Homo sapiens: one gene and its partners. The protein of the gene in region 2 purifies or fractionates together with the protein of the main gene of each other region. This does not show direct contact. Each region holds a gene or a part of one and is shown on either strand. Other genes may lie near its edges.

Region 1 (3,500 bases), on a different chromosome or scaffold from region 2:
TAATTAAACTGACTTCTCTTACCAATTTTTTATAAATAGAATTATATTTACTGTTAACAAATTATGAATCATTCCAAATTAAATACATAGTACAGTTGATCCTAATTATTCATGGAGGTTATGTTCTATATAGTTGCCTTGAACACTGTTAGCTAATATTGAACCATTGCTCTGAGGGAAATACAGGGTTAGGTTTCTGTGAGCCTCTGATCAACTGATCAATATATAGTCTTGTTTTATGTGTGCTTCTCTTTAAAGACACTTTATATAACATATGTTGTTGATTCATTAACACTGAACTCACCACTGAACTCACCACCAGCAGCACTGTAACTCGTGCCTGAATGAAGCTTTTCTAGCACATTATTTTCTCCATAAAGGCACATCACTGTCCTCTGGCGCTAGGAACACTAGACAGCGCTTCAGCACTATGCTTGGGAGCCTTTGCAAGCAGTGAATCACATACAGAGGGCCCAAAAATGTGAAATGCATGACACCAAAGAGACCCTGTAGAGGACACTTGTTTATAATATGAGAGCTTAAATGAGAAGGCAGAGCCTCTCCTGTTCAACCTCAGCTGGGAATGTGAGCATAGGACATCTCAAATTTTTCTCTGCTCTGCACGTGTCTACAAATGATCATAAAATTACCACAAGTATTGATTTGGGGTTTACAAATAAATATTAGCTTCTACACAAATTTGCAAATACAGAATACATGAATAATAATGACTGTATTCTCAATATCAGACTTTGAATCTTCATTTTACTTTAATTAGAATTTTAGAGTAGCAGTGTTCATGGTCTAAATTTTATATCACTAAACAACTATACCAAACTTACCAGTGTTTTAAAATTGAACAGTCACAATTTTTTTTTAAATATTTCTTTTTGGCATTTTATATTTATAGCCAAGCCTACAGATCATATAGCTATCTATTTCTTACCAGATGTTTTTTCCTCCTTTAGGAAACGATGCCCCCACCAACACATACTGCATTTTCTGGCCACCATCTGCCATTTGTTGGTTTTACATATACTAGTAGCTGGTAAGTTTGAAAAGTTAACATAGTTTGGGCCAAGTGCAGTGGCTCACGCCTGTAATCCCAACACTTTGGGAGGCCAAGACAGGTGTATCATGAGGTCAGGAGATCGAGACCAGCCTGGCCAATATGGTGAAACCCCATCTCTACTAAAAATACAAAACTTAGGTGGGCGTGGTGGCAGGTGCCTGTAATCCCAGCTACTCGGGAGGCCGAGGCAGGAGAATCACTTGAACCTGGGAGGTGGAGGTTGCAGTGAGCCGAGACTGCGCCATTGCAGTGCAGCCTGGGTGACAGAGCGAGACTCTGTCTTAAAAAAAAAAAAAGTTAACATAGTTTGGACAATTTAAAGCAAATTAAATTGAATTGAGGTTCGTAAAAGATGTATGAGAAAACTTTGTGAATTAAAACTTTTTAAAAAATAGAGTGAGCCTACTGCTGGAAATAGAAAGTTAAGCATTACAAAATGAATAGAACGCATGAAAATCTTAACTCGTTTTGGAGGGGAAAGAATGGAACAGAGAGCTCAGAATCTAATCCTTACCAATGAAGCAGTAATTAGAAGAGTTTCACGCTGTTGAATATTCTCTAGATGTCAAGCAGGAGAACTTTCAACCCATTAATTCTACCATCCTTTCACTGACCCTCACTTCACTTATATTCCCTATTTCCCCCTTACCCTGTTTAAATTCCATTGAGAATGATTATAATCACTCCTTGTATGCCATTTCAGTTCCTTTGACTGTCTCTCATTCTGTTATATTTGTTTTGCTAAGTGAACATTAACTATTACAATTTTATTCTCTACCTGTACAGTTCCAAATGACTAGAAAAAATAGCTGACTATTCTTACTGGTCTACTTTAAATTCATGATTACCAACCTCAAGTCCCCCTTGTCTGACAAATGTACTGTATTACCCTAGTATATTCACTCTTCCACTCACCTAGTAACTATTTTTTACTTTCTTTTTTTTTAAGAGATGGGGTCTTGTTCTGGGCAGCAGAAGGGCTGGAATGCAGTGGTGCAGTCCTAGCTCACTATAGCCTCAGACTCCTGGGCACAAATGATCCCCCTGCCTCAGCCTCCTGAGTAGCTGGGACAATAGGCACAAGCCACCATGCCCAGCTAATTTTTAAAACGATTTAGAAATGGAGTCTTGCTGTGCTGTCTAGGCTGGAGTGCAGTGGCACAGTCATAGATAACTACAGCCTCCTACTCCTCAAGCCGTCCTCTGGCCTTAACCTCCCCTGTTGCTGGGATTACAGATGTGAGCCACTGCATCTGGCCTATTTCTTTCTACTTGAGTTTGAAACCTCTGTCATCCTCACTTTCAGCTTGCATCTCCTTTCACTGAAAGGATTGAGGCAAACCGCAGACAACTTCCACAAGCTCCAGTTACCATATTTACCGCCTACTTACTGTTAGACCCAAATTCTCTGTTCTTTTCATGGATGAACTGTGCAAGCCTCTAGTAAGGCCAGTATCTTCCATCCCTTCCTGGCTAGTCTAGTGCATGTTTTGCTTTCATGTCATGAATTTTTTTCTTCTTGTGTCATCTGCATCATCAGATCATTTCTATCAGCTTACAAATGTCAGTTCTCCATCTTAATGCAAAATATAAAATCTGGATTCCTCTTCCTTTACCTCTTATCAACCATGTCTCTGCTTTACATTATAGAAAATTTACTTCAACTGTTGACTATATTTTGTTTATGTTTCTCATACTGTTGTTTCTTGAATCCATTCCAGTCAGGTGTGTGCCCCCATCACTTCATGCAAACTACTTTTATCGATGTCACTGTTGACCAACATGTTGCTAAATCTAATGATCACTTGTCAGTCCTAGTCTTACTTATTTGCTTAGTCTCATCTTATTTGCCACAGCTCCATACTTTTAAAATACCACCTTCTCCTGTCTTCTAGGGCACTTGACTGAGTTTCTCTCACCTTGCTGGTCATTCCTTCTCAGTCTCCATACCTGATCCCTCCTGATTTCCCTGGCTTGTTAATATCAGAGTGTCCTATGGCTCAGTCTTTGGACTTCTCTTTTCCATCTAAACTCTGTAGTGTTCTCCCAAAGATTTGCTGATGACTCCTAAACGTGCATCTCCAACTGAGACCTCTCCTCTCGTCTACTTAAAAATCTGTCTTAACCACCCACTTACTATGTAAATAACTTTCTTTTAGTTCTCTGATCCTGTTCAGGTGATCCTCTTAAAAGATAATCAGAACATGTCACTCCCCTGTTCAGAACCAGTCCACCCATCCCCAACTCCAGTGGCTTCATATTTTAACTCCAAATCAAACTTCTTACAAGGCCCTACATGACTGCCTTACTTTTATCTTTCTGAGTTTATTTTTCCTTGTTTACTCAACTCCATCCACACAGGCCTCCTTTCTGGGCTGTGAACATGCCAGACATACTCTTGTCTCGGGGCTTTAGTACTTCTGTTTCA
Region 2 (3,977 bases):
CCTTGATTCTGTAAGTGGTAGTTCTAACTTTGAAATGGGTCATCTAACTTATAACTATTTTCTTCATTTCTTTTTAAAAGGGAGAAATAGCATGCAAATTTCTGGCATGTTGATAGAAAGTTCAGCATTTTTTCCCTGACATGAAATATTTCATTTAGAATGCGTATGTTTCCTCTACGTATAAGGTTTCCTAGAGTCAGATATGATAAAAACAAACTCTGAGATGTATATACCTATGTTCCTACAAGTGTAAAACCTGAATGATGTCTCTGGAAATGGAGCCTCGGAGTGACCAGGAACACAAATACTTATATGTCACAGAAATAGAGGGGCACATACTTTGAAATATTTCAATGGAAATCAAAAATTGTAGTTTACTGGATTGAAATTAGTATCCTCTACTTAAACATTTTTGACACAAACTCAATGCTGATTCAGATCTGTAATCCATGTAGCTCATAATAACTTACTTGGTAGAAGTATTTCAGATTAATGAATTGTACAATTGTACAAATTAATAAATTGTACAATTGTTCAACTATACAATTAATTGTACAATTTGTATAGTTGAAAAAATCTATAAATTAATTTATAGATAAATTATCAAAGAAGACAACATTTTAAATAGTTATTCCCAATATTTTTTCTTCCATAATTAAAATAAAAGTAAGTATCTCAGCAATTGCTTGTTCTTAAAATTTCACTGCTATCTCAGCAGTCATGTAAGTTATTCTGGCTATTTAATTTTTCACTTTTGTTTGCATACTGTAACAGTTGGTAGGATAATTAATTTTGATTGTACATTTCCATTGAACTTTTGATGAAATTGTTTCACTCTTTTTATTAGAATAAAATTATTAGGAAAGTCTTCTAAAGAGAGGTTTTCTGTTTGTTTTTCCTTTGAGGAAGGTAGAGAGATGGGAAACGAAGACACCAAATATAAAGTCATTCCTCTATCTCTCATTTTAAAACCTGTTTTAAAGGTTGTAGCTAGTCAGGAAAACTGAAAAATCAACTGGTATTCCTAACTAAAGCAGGGCTTTGAAACTCTGCTACTAGCGACAGGGTTGGGAAAATTCCGGTTGCTCTTCTTGTCTGTGATATACGGTAGAAGGGTTGGTCCTGGTTTGGTCCACCTGCCAGCGGAGTTTAAAGTTTCCGAGGCTCAGAGGAACACAATGACTTGGATCAAACAGCCTAAATGGGAAGAAGGACATTTTTGCTGCATCAAGGAAGCCGTTAAACTCCTGCTAAGCTAACTAGCTCTTTTTTATGGGTCCATGCACACGACCGAACTCCTCTTTCACTGACCAGAGATTATTTCTGACAACCCAGGATATCCCGAAAGCTTGGAGGCATATGGCTGGAAAATGAAACGACCCAGGACATCGTTTCTGGCTGCATCATTATTTTGTGTCGCGTAGTACCAGATGGGCAGTCAGTGAGCGGCGCAGGGATGTGAACGGACGGTTTTATAATGTGAAAATTTTCCCTTGGTAAAGCTAAAACAGATTTAATTTCCCTCTCTTTTCTTTCACTACTTCCCCCTCTTTATTCCCCCTCTGTCTGCAATATCAGTGAACTCAACTTTGCAGTGAGGTGGCCAAAAAGAGAGAGAATGAGGAGATCTTGATCATCTTAGTGTCGGAGGAGTCGCAGCGGACTGGGAACTGCAGCTGCGACCCCCCGCGTCCTGTGCGGATTTCAGGGCTGATACCGCATAGGCGGTTATGGAAAGGACGGTACACCGGAGCGGCGGAGGATAGAGACCCTGGCCCCCGGAGAGGTCTGCTGATTTCGCAGCAGCCTTCGAAGCCGTGGCTGCCTTTCATCTGCTGCGTTTTATTACTATTATCGCCGTTCCGGAAAAGTCATGGAAGACAGCCCGCTGCCAGACCTCAGAGACATCGAGCTGAAGCTGGGGCGCAAAGTACCCGAGAGTCTAGTGCGCTCTCTCCGTGGGGAGGAGCCGGTTCCCAGGGAAAGGGACAGGGACCCCTGCGGGGGGAGCGGTGGTGGTGGCGGCGGCGGCGGCGGCTGCAGTAGCAGCAGCAGCTACTGCAGCTTCCCTCCCTCCTTGTCGTCCTCCTCTTCGTCCTCCCCAACCTCTGGCTCCCCACGAGGTAGCCACTCTAGCGCCCTGGAGAGGCTAGAAACCAAGCTTCACCTCCTCAGGCAAGAGATGGTGAGTGTGGTGCGCCAGCCGCGGGGGCTGGGACCTGGGCTGGGCCAAAAGATGGGGCGATCTGAGAATGGGGCTGGGAGAGAGGACGGCAGGGGCTGCAGAGCGGAGCGCTGGGCGCGTGGGAAATGCTGGGTGGAGGAATGAGCAGGGGGCGCTCATCCGGAGGCAGCTGCTGCGAGGCTTGTTTACCGCGGACTTTGCTCGGTCACGGTTTGCAAAGACAGCACAGTCGGCTGGCTCCACTCTGTGTACTTTCGGACAACGCGACTCACTGCGCCGGGCTCTATTTAGCTGCCAGCCCGTAGCCTCTTAGGCACCAGCCCGTTGAGAGTTTGCAGTTATTGCACCCATCTAAGGCCTGCTGTGCGCTGTTAACACTTCGGGTAGGTTCAAAAGGTGGCTCAGTCCAATGCACTTACTGCAAAAATACTTCCTGGTTTGCCGGGAGGTGGCGTGGCAGGGTCCTTGCAGCCTTTCCTCCTAGCTCACCCTTCCACCAGTACCGCTCCGCCCTCCTGCCCTCCCTTCTTGGTGCAGCAGCCGCAGCTGTTCCAAGGCCACTGTCGAGCAGATTCTCCACAGCTGGTTCTGAAAACAATGGCCTACTCGTCCTTGATGTACTTATGAATAGCTTGTTTCACTATTTTGATCCCAGGGAGCAGGTGATCCCCAGGCCCAGGGATCTGCTAAGGACCATCTCCCACCCTTCTCCCTCAAGTCTCAATCTGCAGTTGTTTTCCCTGCTGTTTGCAAACGTTTGCCTGAGCATAGGACAATGAGATAAGTACAAGGTCTAGGAATACTCATTCTGGAAGTATTTAGACTAAGACACTATTTACTTGCCATGAGCTCTTGGGCACGTCACTTCACTTCTGTAGACCTCTGTGAATTTGATGAGCTGGTTAGAGAAAATGATCCCTCCCTAAGTCCTTTGAAAAAAACGACCACAAAGCAACAGCATTTTCTACTAGCTTGGAGATAAGGAAAGTTGCAACAGTGGGCCTCAAAAAGAGAAAATAATTTCATTAAATTAACTTCACAGTTGCTTTTGATTTGCTTCAAAGTAGGCTAGGAGATTTCTATCACTCCGACAGGAATGCTGGAAATTATTTCTATCATTCTATCGTTTAGTTATTATAGAGTTCTATCATTTAGTGATTGTTATTTTTTAGGTTGGACAAAAATTTAAGGACAACCCTTAGGTACATAATGGAGAAGCTGGAAAGTGGAAGTCATCTTGATGAGTTTGCAAAATAGATGAAAAGATAAAATGGAAAAGATGACAAACCAACAGGTCAGGGGATGCCTGATACCGTATCACAAAGATCAGACATACGTGTGGAGACTAACAGGTAAAACTATTTTCCACAAGAAAATTTCTTGTACAAGGAATTAAGAATGTTGCTAACTCTGCAAATTAAGGACTTAATATGAGGGACGAAGACATCAAGGAGATGAGGAAATTTTATTCCTAACCATGTCTTCTGTAATTTTACCCATGGAATGTTAATATATTCACTTAATCTAATAAATAAATCTTGTTGAAACATATTTTCTTTCTCAGTAGCTCACTGATAGCACATCAAAGATAATACTGTCATTTTGCTGGACACTCAGACACAATTTAGAGTATTTATATATAACTTGAAAACAGTAACATTTCCAAAAACCGATGAACCCCACCCTGTCCCAAGGAATGATTGGTATGTATGTGAAGATCATTTTCTGACAAAAATAATTACGTTCCACTTAGGATGCACAACCATGTTGTCCTGTAGAGAAGTCACAAGTT
Region 3 (3,500 bases), on a different chromosome or scaffold from region 2:
ACCTCTGTCCTTTGCCCTCCACCCTCCCCCTGTGGCATCCACAAACACTCATCTGTCTGACCAGCTCAGATGGAGTGGCAAAGGGAGGGAGAAGACTGGGGCAGCCAGAGAACAGGGTCTCTAGTGGCCCTTCCTCTCTCTGGCATCAATGCTCCACAGACAGCCCTGGTACTCTGGGCCCTGCCTCCTCCACCTCCCAACACTCACCCTCTCTCGAAGTGACCCCTGCTCTAGGTGGGCCAGCAGCGGGCAGCAGCCACAGCAGCAGCACATCCCAGCATGGGCACTGCCCAGCAGCAAGCGACCCTGGCACTGCCTAGTGCTATTGTCCCGGAGGTTGCCTGTGCCCGCCCCAGGGCTCAGGCTTCTGAGGATGGAAGGACATAGGGCCTGCTTACCAGGGGTGCCTGCTCCAGAGGTGGAGTGAGTGGGCTTGTTTGGTTCTTTGTCCTACTCTTTTCCAGGTATTCTTAAGATAATCACATTGGTCTCCCATTTACCCACGCCCAAGTAGGACAGCCCTTTACCTCCAAGACCCAACCTATGCACCAAGAAAAAGGGCCCATTACTCCACAATCCATAACACCCACCCCAGTGCTCAGAGGCCCTTCCTGCTTGGTTCAGTCCTTTGCTCTCCAGCATCTAGATACTTTTTTTTTTCTTTTTTTTTTTGAGACAGGGTCTCACTCTGTTGCCTGGACTGGAGTACATTGGCATGATCATGGCTCACCGCAGCCTTGACCTCCCGGGCTCAAGTGATCCTTCCACCTCAGCCCTCCAAATAGCTGGGACCACAGGCATGCATCATGATGCTCACCTAATTTTTAAATTTTTTTTGTAGAGACAGCGTCTTGCTATGTTGCCCAGGCTGGTCTCGAACTCCTAGGATCAAGTGATCCTCCTGCCCCAGCCTCCCCAAAGTGCTAGAATTATAGGTGTGAGCCACCACGCTCAGACCTAGAGTCATTCTGTCTCTTTCTCACAAATCCCATGGGAAGTTCTTCTTGCTACACACCTTCATCCACACTACTGCTACATCAAGGATAAATAAAGAATATGAAAGCCCTTAGCACAATACCTGGTATACAATAGGCACCCAATACATGTCTCAAAATGAAAGAAAAGGAAGGAAGCAAAGAAGCAAGGAAGGATGTATGGACACCAAGACATGGGGTCTCAGTAGCACCCTGGCCCCTATTCTGGAAACCCTCTTCCTTCCTTATCAGAGCTTTAGAACCTTCTGTCTCTTCTTGTTTCTCTTTTCTCCCTCCTCCTGAAGGGCTCTAAGCCATTCTCTCCTATTTCCTTTGAGTTTAGACCCTGAGGGTTTCCTCTGGAAGTCAGAAGACCAACCCCAAACTTCCTTCCACTGTCATCCCAGATCTCAGTCACTTTTGGGAAAGAAAGACAGGGCCAGGCCGAGCGCAGTGGCTCATGCCTATAATCCTAACACTTTGAGAGGCCGAGGCGGGCAGATCACTTGAGATCAGGAGTTTGAGACCAGCCTGGCCAACATGGCAAAACCCCATCTCTACTAAAAATACAAAAATTGGCCGGGTATGGTGGTGGGCACCTGTAATCCCAACTACTCAGGAGGCTGAGGCAGGAGAATTGCTTGAACGCAGGAGGTGGAGGTTGCAGTGAGCCAAGATCATGCCACTGCACTCCAGCCTGGGTGACAGAGCGAGACTCTGTCTCAAAAAAAAAAAAAGAAAAGAAAAAAGAAAGAAAGATGGGAGCAATGGCAGAGGGCATTGTGGATCTCTACTGAAAAGCTCAAAGGCAAACACAGTCTCCCCTCTTCTCTCCACTTTGTCTCCCAGAATAAGGGATGAGGAAACAGTGACGTACATGGAGGGGAAGGCAATGCCAAGGCTAGGACTTTGGCTTCCTGGGCTCCCAGCAGGCAGCAAGGCCAGGCAGATCCACCCAGGCGAGGTAGAGCTTCTCCAAGCAAGCCCTAAGCTCTCATCTGACTTTTTTTTTTTTAATAATAGATTTTAAAAACTTAATGTTTTTGTAGAGATGAGGTCTCACTATGTTGCCCAGGCTTGTCTCAAATTCCTGAGCTCATGCGATCCAGCTGCCTTGGTCTTCCAAAATGCTAGGATTACAGGTGCGAGCCACTGTGCCCAGCTCTCTCAGCTGCCTTTGCTTCTCTCTCAGGTATGTCCAAATCAAGACTTCTGGGAGAGTCACAGAGTACTCAGAATCACCTCTCCTCCAGCTGTACCTGGCAGCAGCCCCTTCCCCAAGATGGTGACACCTCTGTCCACACCCTCTGTAATAGTGACCGGAGAGCCTGTGGAGCATTCCACCAGGATTCGAGTCACCTGTGGCTCAGCCCCTGTACAGCAGAGGCGCCGTTGGCTATGAAGGGCACTGAGTCCTGGAGGAGGAGCTATAGGGCTGGGAAATGAAGAGGTGAGGGATTGCTGGGGGTGGGACTGAGAAGAGGGCTTGGGGTGGTCTCAGCCGGGCCCTGCTCCTTTATGAGCTTCCAGGGACAAGATGAAGACAGGAGGCAGAGGGGAAGGCAGCCAAGTGGAAACACTAATGCCAAAGCCAGAAACAACACAGAAAGACATCACTGCACACACAAAGGCACTTAATAAATGCTTGCTTAGTGAATGAAGATGAGACACTGGCAATGGGAGTGGGTACGGGTGAAACGGAAGAGGATTGCTAAGGGCCACAAGGAATAAATCAGGTTAGGGACCCTGAGACCCAAGCATCCTGGAACCCAGCCTGCCCCCTACGCGGCCACACCTGTCAGGCCAGGAGAGAGAGACAAGCAGAAAGAGAGGGGGGGTAAGCGATGCAAACAGACAGGCATTTGTGCAAGTGAACAATAGCTGTGCCAGGACTCCCTGCCCTCCTGGCACAAGGCAGGCCGGCTGGGTTGGGAGGGGGGCAGCTGCTGCCTGCAACCCCACCCCCACCCTCTCCCAAAGAGACATAAACAAACCCGGAAGGGTCCAGCCAGCTCCTCTCAGCCTTTTCTCTTACCAGCTTCAGAAATCCTAACCAATCCGCTCACTCAGCTCCTAGATGATATTTCCAACCAGAAACTGAAGCTAAGGATGAAGCTACTTCCTCGTGGCCAGAGAGCACGAACCCCCTACTTTGCTGACCACTGTTCAAAACAGTAGCCCAGAGCATCTGGGTACAGAATAGGAGGGCAGGCAGGCAGACAGACACACTGACACACCAGCACACCAGTAACATGCACACAGGGGATGCACACATTCACATCTGTCCCCTCCTTGATTCCAAGGTCAAATTCCACAGCCAGAGTGGCTAAGATCAGACCCCACTGTAACTCCTCTGGTCGGCCTCAGTAGGTCCTTCTCTAGGCCCCATCTAACCTCCTGCAAGTCACTCAGTGACTTCCCTAAGCTTTAGACTCCCTTCCCCTATCCTCACTTCTCCCCTCCCCCTCAACTCTCTCCCTAACCTCCACGACCCCTAGAATTTTTGTCTATGTCCCCAGAAGCCTC
Region 4 (3,500 bases), on a different chromosome or scaffold from region 2:
TTTCCTTAATTTGGCTCAGGATGACCATGTGTTGCTAAGATCAGTGTAAAGCAATGTTAAGAGTCTATAAGTACAAGCTTTAAGTGTTACTACTAAATTAAATTCTGGACTTGAGGCATTTTGAAAATCACATTCAATATGATTCATTTTTCCTTGAAATGAAGTTGTTATATCATGCCAGTGACACAACCAGAGGTGAGATCCTAATAGCTCTTGAGGGAATGGGCCTTGCATGATCAAATTTAAATAAAATTTAGCACCTAAATTCAGTAATGGAGGCAAGCAATAGCATGGGAATTAACCAACTTCACTTGGGCTACTTTCGCAATAAAGAAGACAATACAAGTCAACAATATAGCACCATGCTGCCATAAAAACCCTTAAAAGTAGCAATTAGTTCAAATTTTATAAGTAATTGTGAGACAGCAGTCTGAGTTTTCTAAAATCAAACATACAAAAAACACACTTTCAATAGGCCAGTTAAATTAGTTATTGGCTGACTTTTAAGATAGTTAAGTACCTTAATAATAAAATAATTAAGGACATGGCTCTCTTGAAACTTAGTGTTTTAAAGAAGGTTCCATGTTCAAAAAATGTAAGTTGTAAAGATCTAACAGCAATTATTTACCTATATTAAGATTCATATGAGTTAAAAAATTATAGAAAACATATCCATCAACATAATGAGTTAGAAAATATACCAAAAATTAATATTGCCAGAATTCTTAATCAGAAAAACAAGCTCCAAGACCTCTGGAAGTCTTGGCAATATTTCTGTCCAATGTAGCCATTTATCTCCCCAGAAGTAAAATTTAAAGGTCTCAACTAAAATAAAACACTCTCTTCAGGAACTGGGTGACTATCATTAAGTACTCCATCGATTGGTAGTTGTATGTGTCCTATCTTATCTATTAAAAAATGGCTAAACACTATTCAGTAGGTGATATGTTTCTATGGAATCAAGACTTACATTCTTACAGGTTTGCCCATAGGTATTAGTTCTTCTTAAGATCTAGCTCCCTTATTAAAAGAAGAAATTTTAAAGAGTTCTAGAAGCTCAGATTACTTTTCCATTCAATTACATTTAAGAAGCCTGCTTGTATAGTCATTAAGGTGAATAAAACCAGATTATGGTACATACCATTATCAAACAGTTAAAGTATATATCTTCATCAAACATTATTAGTATCTCATGTCATTTGATTACACAGAGGCTTTTTTTTTCTTCCTGAGATGGAGTCTCACTCTTGTTGCCCAGGCTGGAGTGCAATGGCGTGATCTCAGTTCGCCACAACCTCCACCTCCCAGGTTCAAGCGATTCTCCTGCCTCAGCCTCCCAAGTAGCTGGAATTACAGGCATGCACCACCATGCACAGCTAATTTTTGTATTTTTAGTAGAGACGGGCTTTCTCCATGTTGGTCAGGCTGGTCTTGAACTCCCAACCTTAGACGATCTGCCCGCCTCGGCCTCCCAAAGTGCTGGGATTACAGGCGTGAGCCACGATGCCCGGCCAACACAGAGGCTTTTATTAAATGATTCTATTTCATAAAAATGCACCTGTTTCAATCTCACCTTGCTTACAGACCACATACAACAAGACACATCTGTCTAATGGCAAGTTTCACATTCCTGCACAGCAGATTTCATGAGTCCTAAACAGGCTACATCAGAGTCTACCACAGGAAAAATCAGATTTCAAAATATCTTACCCCAGATATGAGAAACACTTTACAGAAGTCCAAAACTGGCAGAATCTGTAGGAAACTGGCAGCTTCCAGCGTGTCTTGAAGGTTGTCCATATTAAGAGAAAGCTTTGCAGTATAAATGAAATCAATAATTTTCCTTAGACCGACTTTGCTCACACCATGAAGTTTAATGCACATTAAATCTTGTTCTTTCATTCCACCTTAAATAAAAAGACATTCAATTAAATGAAGGTGGATAATTATGGTCAAACTCACTTCTGCTGCTAATTAGATGCAATAAAATCAAAGGAAAGTCTTATCTTATATAAGCAGTCATATTAGAGTCAGTCTGCTGCACATTTTACTGTTAAAAGAAAGTACTTAAAAAAGATAATCTCTATACTAATGGAGGTCATATATGATGCAAGTGCTTCCAAAATGTTCTCACTTCCTATTTTTTGACATAGAGTAGAGATTGTACTAGGAGGACACAGAGTCTCTGATGGCCCACTAGATATAAGCTTGAAAAAGAAAAGCTGTGAGATAAAGATGGACAGTATGAAAAAAGTGCATCAATTTTCCATGTTAAAACAGCACCACCGAAAACCATACATACTGTTGTGTACTTCTTTTGAAGCTGTTTCCAAAAGAACCAAATTTCATGTTAGAAATAAAAAAGATTTAAACACGGATTTTTCATATTGTTTTAATGTGGTTTCAGAGTTTTAAAAGGCAAACTACCTGTGAACATAGCCTTGAAGTAATCACTAGCAGATGCCATCATGACTCTATGCACAGGGAAAGCATCATCTGTGTCACCTGGCATCAGGGTCACATCACAAAGCAATCCTTCAAGTCGAAGCTGGTCAAAGCCCTACAACAAGAACATGAGTTGAGTCACTAATCAAGGTAAAATGAGGTTACAAATCTTCGTGTGCTAAAATTGTTTGAATATTAATGTGGTGCAACATATGTGGAACATAAAGCCAACAGAATATTCGGGAGAAGAAAAAATAACTGCACAACTTTCCTGATATGTGACAATGCATGTTTTCTTTCACTGTAGGAATAACACAAAATTAAGACTAATTTAGGTTAAAAACGATTAAGGAAAAAGTATATACTTTTGCTTATTTACACAATTATCAGCTTTTACCTTATTTTGAAAAATAATTACAATGTGCACTTCTACTTTCCCATCTGCAGAATGAGAGTATTAGACTGTCTTAACATTCCTTTTCGCGATAATTTAATAGTCCTTTTATAGTGCTTGACTGAAGCATCTTGGTTTTGTTTTGTTTTGGGGGAGGTTGAGAAAGAAAAGTAGAGAGCAACTGTATTAAGTACACGATAGTTCTTTCTACTAATTGTATTACTTCATCTCTTTGAGAAGCCTATACTCAGTACATTGCTGCTGCCTGGCCAAATATCTTTCAAGTTTCAAGTTTGAGACTTAATTATCTTTGTTTGAAAAAAAACAAAAAAAAGCCCAGGAAACCCCAACATGAGACTTAATTGTCTCCAAATGCCTAAAGGTTTAGTGGAGAATTAACAGGCTAGCAGCCACAATTCAGAGGAGTGACAGAGCTCTGGTGAGAAGAATCCTTGTTGATTAGCTTTTTCACTACACCCTGATGGTCTCAACTAACGACAAATAGACAGTTGTTCTATTGATATAAGTTGGAAGAATGACAATCACTTTTAAGATTATAACAGGTTGAATCTACAACATACACATATTTCAAAACATCATGTTTTTCAATTTTTATCTTTTATTTTTAATTTTTGTGGGTACAGAGATGTATGCTTTAGGG

Evidence for each region.
Region 1: the proteins of LURAP1L (region 2) and CDC42BPA purify together in Homo sapiens (affinity purification with mass spectrometry; 3 studies listed by BioGRID and IntAct, with this or other methods). This does not show direct contact.
Region 3: the proteins of LURAP1L (region 2) and ARHGEF2 purify together in Homo sapiens (affinity purification with mass spectrometry; one large-scale study listed by BioGRID and IntAct). This does not show direct contact.
Region 4: the proteins of LURAP1L (region 2) and KLHL13 purify together in Homo sapiens (affinity purification with mass spectrometry; one large-scale study listed by BioGRID and IntAct). This does not show direct contact.

What each region holds. Positions count from the first base shown.
Region 1 is NC_000001.11:227,140,493-227,143,992, reverse strand, and holds part of CDC42BPA (serine/threonine-protein kinase MRCK alpha), read left to right. Parts: intron 1-968; coding exon 969-1,048; intron 1,049-3,500. UniProt on the Homo sapiens protein: Serine/threonine-protein kinase which is an important downstream effector of CDC42 and plays a role in the regulation of cytoskeleton reorganization and cell migration. Regulates actin cytoskeletal reorganization via phosphorylation of PPP1R12C and MYL9/MLC2.
Region 2 is NC_000009.12:12,773,843-12,777,819, forward strand, and holds the start of LURAP1L (leucine rich adaptor protein 1-like), read left to right. Parts: upstream 1-1,177; 5' UTR 1,178-1,873; coding exon 1,874-2,185; intron 2,186-3,357; coding exon of another isoform or gene 3,358-3,387; exon of another isoform or gene 3,388-3,736; intron 3,737-3,977.
Region 3 is NC_000001.11:155,972,048-155,975,547, forward strand, and holds part of ARHGEF2 (rho guanine nucleotide exchange factor 2), read right to left. Parts: intron 1-3,500. UniProt on the Homo sapiens protein: Activates Rho-GTPases by promoting the exchange of GDP for GTP.
Region 4 is NC_000023.11:117,917,811-117,921,310, forward strand, and holds part of KLHL13 (kelch-like protein 13), read right to left. Parts: intron 2,561-3,500; coding exon 2,428-2,560; intron 1,908-2,427; coding exon 1,711-1,907; intron 1-1,710. UniProt on the Homo sapiens protein: Substrate-specific adapter of a BCR (BTB-CUL3-RBX1) E3 ubiquitin-protein ligase complex required for mitotic progression and cytokinesis.